2 linked regions of the Homo sapiens genome follow. The protein of the gene in region 1 interacts with the protein of each later gene in a pairwise test. Each region holds a gene or a part of one and is shown in the gene's direction. Other genes may lie near its edges.

Region 1 (2,589 bases):
TGAACCCAGGAGGCAGAGGCTGCATTGAGCCGAGACTGCGCCACTGCACTCCAGCTTAGGCGACAGTGAGACTCCGTCTCAAAAAAACAAAAACAAAAACAAAAAATGGAGCGGGGGCAGGGACCATACCTTGGCTGTCTCTTGGCTGTGCCTTTGTACTTGGCCCTGACCCTGCCAGGGAGCAAAAAGACTGATGTAGAGCTGTTGGAGGTGGTACATTCATCAGATGAGGGAGGTCAGGGCCTCCGGAATCCAGAGGCTGCATTTCTCTGTGGGTTGTTAACAAAATATTGATGACGCATCTCAGACCCAGACAGATGTTACCCTCATTTTTAGGAGCAAGGGGCACATCAGACCACTTTGTGTACTAGTAATTAAGTCAGAGTGGCCAAACGTGGTTGTGCCTCCTTGTGCCTTGGGTTCTACTTTAGTTTCTGAATCAGTTGTACTCCTTGCTAGGGACAGCCAGTATCCTCAGGCCAGTTCTCTTTTGCCCACATGTCCCTTTTTAAATGCACCACCATCACAGTGGTGACAATGTGACTTAGGGACAGAGCCCCGTTTATCTTGTAGGTGACAGAAGCGCTCTGCGGCCCAGTGGACTGCGGCTGGGGACCCCAGCACTGACGTCCCGTGGACTTTTGGAAAAAGACTTCCAAAAAGTAGCCCACTTTATTCACAGAGGTAAGGATAAAAGTTTGGAAGTTGCCACATCTTATTGTGTGTATTTAGTTTCTGATTGTGATGAGTAGCTGAGACCCTGCCACTGAAAGACAATTCTGCACCAAGGCTGAGTGTTGGGGTGGGAGACAGCAAAAAACACATGTAAATCACCTTGTCTGAGAGGGTTATAAATTTGGGCTGCCCAGGACATCTGTCCAAGGGTGGGTGCATCTCAGAGTAATTGAGGTAAGCATGGAGACCTTGTGCCCTGCCACACTCCCCAGCTGGGGGACATTCTGACATTTGTGCCTCGGCCCCCAGCCATTGTACCCCCTTTGGTGTGTAGTGTGGGGTGACTCATTTGTGTCTTGTGGCACAGGGATAGAGCTGACCCTGCAGATCCAGAGCGACACTGGTGTCAGAGCCACCCTGAAAGAGTTCAAGGAGAGACTGGCAGGGGATAAGTACCAGGCGGCCGTGCAGGCTCTCCGGGAGGAGGTTGAGAGCTTCGCCTCTCTCTTCCCTCTGCCTGGCCTGCCTGACTTCTAAAGGAGCGGGCCCACTCTGGACCCACCTGGCGCCACAGAGGAAGCTGCCTGCCGGAGGACCCCCACCTGAGAGATGGATGAGCTGCTCCAAAGGGGAACTGTTGACACTCGGGCCCTTTGAGGGGGTTTCTTTTGGACTTTTTTCATGTTTTCTTCACAAATCAAAATTTGTTTAAGTCTCATTGTTAGTAATTCTGGGACAGGTTATTAAAGGATTTAAATTTGAACCTGGCTTTCTCACAGCTGGACATAATTCTAGGAAAATAAAATACTATGTCGCCACTTGGTCATAATCATTTAGATGGTGGTGTAGGGCAAAGCTGTTAGAAAGATTGTAGCGTTTTACTCTCCCTGGGCTTTCCTCCGCCTTGCTGCAACAGAGAGGAAATGCCCATGTCCACAGCTTGTACACACTGCCCCCTCACTATCTTGTTATCCAGTGGCATGCCAAAGGAGAACTGAATTAGCTTCTGAGGCTTCTGCTGTAAATCAGAAGTGTATGTTAGTCAAGAGTAAACAAGATGCACCCAGTATGGTGGGAGGGTTTTGCTGTCAGTAGCTCAAAGTATGGTGTAGAAATGGCCTCCTCCCTCCATCCTGGGAAGTCCCAGTCCCATCCTGGTGTGAGAATCAACCAGGCTTTCCTGCTCCACCTGAGATAACCAACTCCCTCCCGTAATCAGGAAGCCAAATGTCACCTTCCCAAAGAAATTTTATTTTCACGTAGCTGAAGTGCAAAACATAGATGACCATTTTTAATAAGCACAATCAAATTTTTAACCACAGAATGTCTACAAGAATTATAGCTTTAAAAAATACAACCAATTTTTATATTTCAAAAATATTTGAACTCAAATAAATTAATTTCTTAAAAAGTACACTTCTCATACTATGTGTTTGGCATTGACTCTGGTTAACTCTTGTGCAGCAACACCTACGAGATGCTATCACACACGCGCCAGCTGCACTCCTGCACCAGCCGCTGCAACGACTGCACCTCACGTGGTGGCGGGGACTCACATTCACAAGACGGGACGGGAACATGCAGTAATAAAATAGCTTTTTAAAAAATAACACATATAAATTCATCACATAGGATTATGCTTTTCACTGCAACCTTGAAGGTGGCATTTATCTCAATCTGTGACTCCAGCTATTTAGTGGCAGACAATCCCGGTGAGGCAGCCTGTGGTCCCACCTTGTAGGTGGCAGCCCCTGCAATCTGGGGTCTAGCCTGTCGGCGTTTGCTTTATTGTGGGTGGAGCAGCTGCTGCAGAATCTGTGAGTTGACTCACCAGTCCCTACAGTTCTGCTACCAAAGTGGTCTTCAATTTAGGGGCCTGACCCCTCCCCAGCTGGAGACAAGCTGCCATCTCCA
Region 2 (3,945 bases), on another chromosome or scaffold:
GGCTGGAGTGCAGTGGTGTGATCTTGGCTCACTGAAACCTCCGCCTCCTGGGTTCAAGTGATTCTCTTGCCTCAGCCTCCTGAGTAGCTAGGATTACAGATGCCCGCCATCATGCCCAGCTAATTTTTGTATTTTTAGTAGAGACAGGGTTTCACCATGTTGGCCAGCTTGGTCTCGAACTCCTGACCTCAGGTGATCCTGCTGCATCGACCTCCCAAAGTACTGGGATTACAGGCGTGAGCCACCACGCTCAGCCTCTTTCTTGTTCTATATGTCCATGCTCTGCTCCACTTCTGCCCCTTCACTCTGCCCCCACACATCACTCCAGACTGGCCTTGTGGTCAGAGCCTGGAATGCCTGGGCTGCTGGGGGCCTGTGGACTGCACTGGGCCAGAACCCCTGCCGCCTTCAAGACTGGCCTGTAGCCAGCAGGTAGGTGACTTTTCCCAGGCCGGCCTATCCCACCTTTCCCCTCCACTCACTCACCTCCCTTGCCTGGGTCAATTAGAGAAAGCTTGTCGGCCAGGCATGGTGGCTCATGCCTGTAATCTCAGCACTTTGGGAGGCCGAGGCGGGCGGATCATCTGAGCTCAGGAGTTTGAGACCAGCCTGGCCAACATGGCAAAACCCCGTCTCTACTAAAAATACAAAAATTAACCGGATGTGGTGGTGTGCACCTGTAATCCCAGCTACTCGGGAGGCTGAGGCAGAAGAATCGCTTGAACCCAGGAGGGGGAGGTTACAGTGAGCGGAGATCGTGCTACTGCATTGCAGCCTGGGCGAGAGAGCGAGTCTCCATCTCATATAAAAAAAAGAAAAAGAAAGAAAGAAAGCTTGTCTGTTGGCCTGCCCTGCAGGGTGGAGTTCAGAGGGAAGGTCAGGAGCCTAGTGACAGCTCAAAAAAAAAAAAACCCAAATACCAATGTTGGCCCCTTTTGCCTTTCATTCATGTGTTTTCTATACACTAAACTCACATATTGGGTTTGCAGATCACTCCAAGCTTGGCTGGAGCTGTGGTGGTAAGGAGGGTAATAGAGAAGCTTCCCCACCCTCAACCCCACCCCTTCCTTCCTGGAGTTCCCAGCCCTGACTTTAGATCCCTCCCACACTGGACCTTCAAAACCCTCAGGGCAGAGAGCAGCCCTACACTCCCTACACCACACCCATACTCAGCCCCTGCAGGCAAGGAGAGAACAGGTCAGGTTCCCGAGAGCTCAGGTGAGTGACACGTTGGAATGGCCCAGGGCACCTTCACCCTGCTCAGCTTGTGGCTCCAACATTCTAGAAGCCGAGGCCTCTGCCATCCCTGCCCTTTCCCATGGATATTCCATTTCAATTAGACAACCCAGCCTGGCCGGAATCCCCCTGCGTTCCTTCTTTTCCTTTGTGTATTTTTGAGACAGGGTGTTGCTCCGTCACCCAGGCTGGAGTGTAGTGGGATCCTGGCCCACTGCAGCCTCAAATTCCTAGGCTGAGGCAATCCTGCCGCCTCAGCCTCCTGAGTAGCTGGGGTTACAAGAGCAAGCCACCACACCCAGCTAATTTTGAAAAATATTTTTTGTAGAGGAGAGGTCTTGCTTTGTTGTCCAGGTTGGTCTCAAACTCCAGGGCTCAAGGGATCCTTTCCCGTTGGCCTCCCAAGGCTCTGGGATTACAGGCGGGAGTCACCCTGCCTGGGCCCCTCCTTTTGATGAGTCATCAGTTTTCATTCCCGCACGAGGCTCTAGCCCCTGGTACCAGCTTAGTTGCTCAATGGGCTGTGTTTGTTCTGGAGCCCAGATGGACTGTGGCCAGGCAAGTGGATCACAGACCTGGCCGGCCTGGGAGGTTTCCACATGTGAGGGGCATGAGGGGGGCTCAAGGAGGGGAGCATCGGGGAGAGGAGCGCACTGGGTGGAGGCTGGGGGTCCCAGCAGGAAATGGTGAGACAAAGGGCGCTGGCTGGCAGGGAGACAGCACAGGCAGGCCCTAGAGCTTCCTCAGCACAGCTGGACTCTCCTGGAGACCTTCACACACCCTGATATCTGGGCCCCGCGCTACGAGGGTGCTTTCACTGGTCTGCACTATGCCCCAGGCCCTGGGATTTTGAACAGCTCTGCAGGTGACTGAAAGGTGCGGCCAGGCTGGGGAACGACCTGGTTTCAGCCCCAGCCCCGCCACTGACTGACTTTGTGAGTGCGGGCAAGTCACTCAGCCTCCCTAGGCCTCAGTGACTTCCCTGAAAGCAAAAACTCTGCAAAGGGGCAGCTGGGTGCTGGCTCACACCTGTAATCCCAGCACTTTGGGAGGCTGAGGTAGACAAATCACTTGAGGCCAGGAGTTCTAGACCAGCCTGGCCAACATGGTGAAACCCCATCTCTACTAAAGAAAAAAAAAAATTAGCTGAGCATGGTTGTACATGCTTGTAATCCCAGCTACTTGGGATGCCGAGGCGGGAGGATTGCTTGAACCCAAGAGGTGGAGTTTGCAGTGAGCTGAGATTGTGCCACACTGCACTCCAGCTTGGGTGAGAGTGAGACTCCATCTCAAAAAAAAAAAAAAAAAAGAGAGAATCCCACTTTCTTGCTGTTGTGATGGTGGTAAGGGAACGGGCCTGGCTCTGGCCCCTGATGCAGGAACATGGAGCTGATCCAGGACACCTCCCGCCCGCCACTGGAGTACGTGAAGGGGGTCCCGCTCATCAAGTACTTTGCAGAGGCACTGGGGCCCCTGCAGAGCTTCCAAGCCCGACCTGATGACCTGCTCATCAACACCTACCCCAAGTCTGGTAAGTGAGGAGGGCCACCCACCCTCTCCCAGGCGGCAGTCCCCACCTTGGTCAGCAAGGTCGTGCCCTCAGCCTGCTCACCTCCTATCTCCCTCCCTCTCCAGGCACCACCTGGGTGAGCCAGATACTGGACATGATCTACCAGGGCGGCGACCTAGAGAAGTGTAACCGGGCTCCCATCTACGTACGGGTGCCCTTCCTTGAGGTCAATGATCCAGGGGAACCCTCAGGTGCATGGCTGGGTCCTGGGGGTAAGGGAAGTGGAGGAAGACAGGGCTGGGGCTTCAGCTCACCAGACCTTCCCTGACCCACTACTCAGGGCTGGAGACTCTGAAAGACACACCGCCCCCACGGCTCATCAAGTCACACCTGCCCCTGGCTCTGCTCCCTCAGACTCTGTTGGATCAGAAGGTCAAGGTGAGGCCGGGCTCAATGGTTCACACCTGTCATCCCAGTTTGAGACTGAGGAGGGAGGATCCCTTGAAGGCGAGAGATGGAGACCAGCCTGGGCAACATTGCTGTAGAGATGACATCCCATCTCTACAAAAATAAAATTAACAACCTGGTATGGTGGCATAGACTGTTCCCAGTTACTTAGGAGGCTCAGCGGGGAGGACTGTTTATGCAAATAGGAAGCTGCAATGAGCCCTGATGATCCTGCTGCTGCACTCCAGCCTGGGCAACACAGCAAAACCATCTCTACGAAAAAAAAAGTTCCCACTGACTGGCAAGGAAAGCCAGGAAGGGGGGCTCAGGTGCCCTCTCAGCCATGTACCTGTTCTTCTGGAAGGGCCTCCTCGCTTCTGCCAGGCTCATCACATCTTTTTTTTTTTTTGAGACAGAGTCTTGCTCTGTCACCCTGGCTGGAGTGCAGTGGCATGATCTCAGCTCACTGCAACCTCCGCCTCCCCAGTTCAAGTGATTCTCCTGCCTCAGCCTCCTGAGTAGCTGGGATTACAGGCGTGTGCTACCACACCCGGCTAATTTTTGTATTCTTTTTAGTAGAGACGGGGTTTCACCATGTTGGTCAAGTGGATCTCAAACTCTTGACCTTGTGATCCTCCTGCCTCGACCTCACAAAGTGCTGGAATTACAGGCGTGAGCCACCGCGCCTGGCCCTTTTTTTTTTTGAGACAGTTTCACTCTTGTTGCCGAGGCTAGAGCGCAATCGTGTGATC

Evidence for each region. Proteins that work in one complex are often made in the same cells at the same time.
Region 2: the proteins of SHMT1 (region 1) and SULT1A3 interact in a two-hybrid assay, tested with the Homo sapiens proteins (one large-scale study listed by BioGRID).

Annotation. Positions count from the first base shown.
Region 1 is NC_000017.11:18,327,373-18,329,961, reverse strand, and holds the end of SHMT1 (serine hydroxymethyltransferase, cytosolic), read left to right. Parts: intron 1-573; coding exon 574-684; intron 685-1,042; coding exon 1,043-1,212; 3' UTR 1,213-2,089; downstream 2,090-2,589. UniProt on the Homo sapiens protein: Interconversion of serine and glycine.
Region 2 is NC_000016.10:30,198,110-30,202,054, forward strand, and holds the start of SULT1A3 (sulfotransferase 1A3), read left to right. Parts: upstream 1-1,145; 5' UTR 1,146-1,218; intron 1,219-2,615; 5' UTR 2,616-2,619; coding exon 2,620-2,767; intron 2,768-2,871; coding exon 2,872-2,997; intron 2,998-3,086; coding exon 3,087-3,184; intron 3,185-3,945. UniProt on the Homo sapiens protein: Sulfotransferase that utilizes 3'-phospho-5'-adenylyl sulfate (PAPS) as sulfonate donor to catalyze the sulfate conjugation of phenolic monoamines (neurotransmitters such as dopamine, (R)-adrenaline/epinephrine, (R)-noradrenaline/norepinephrine and serotonin) and phenolic and catechol drugs.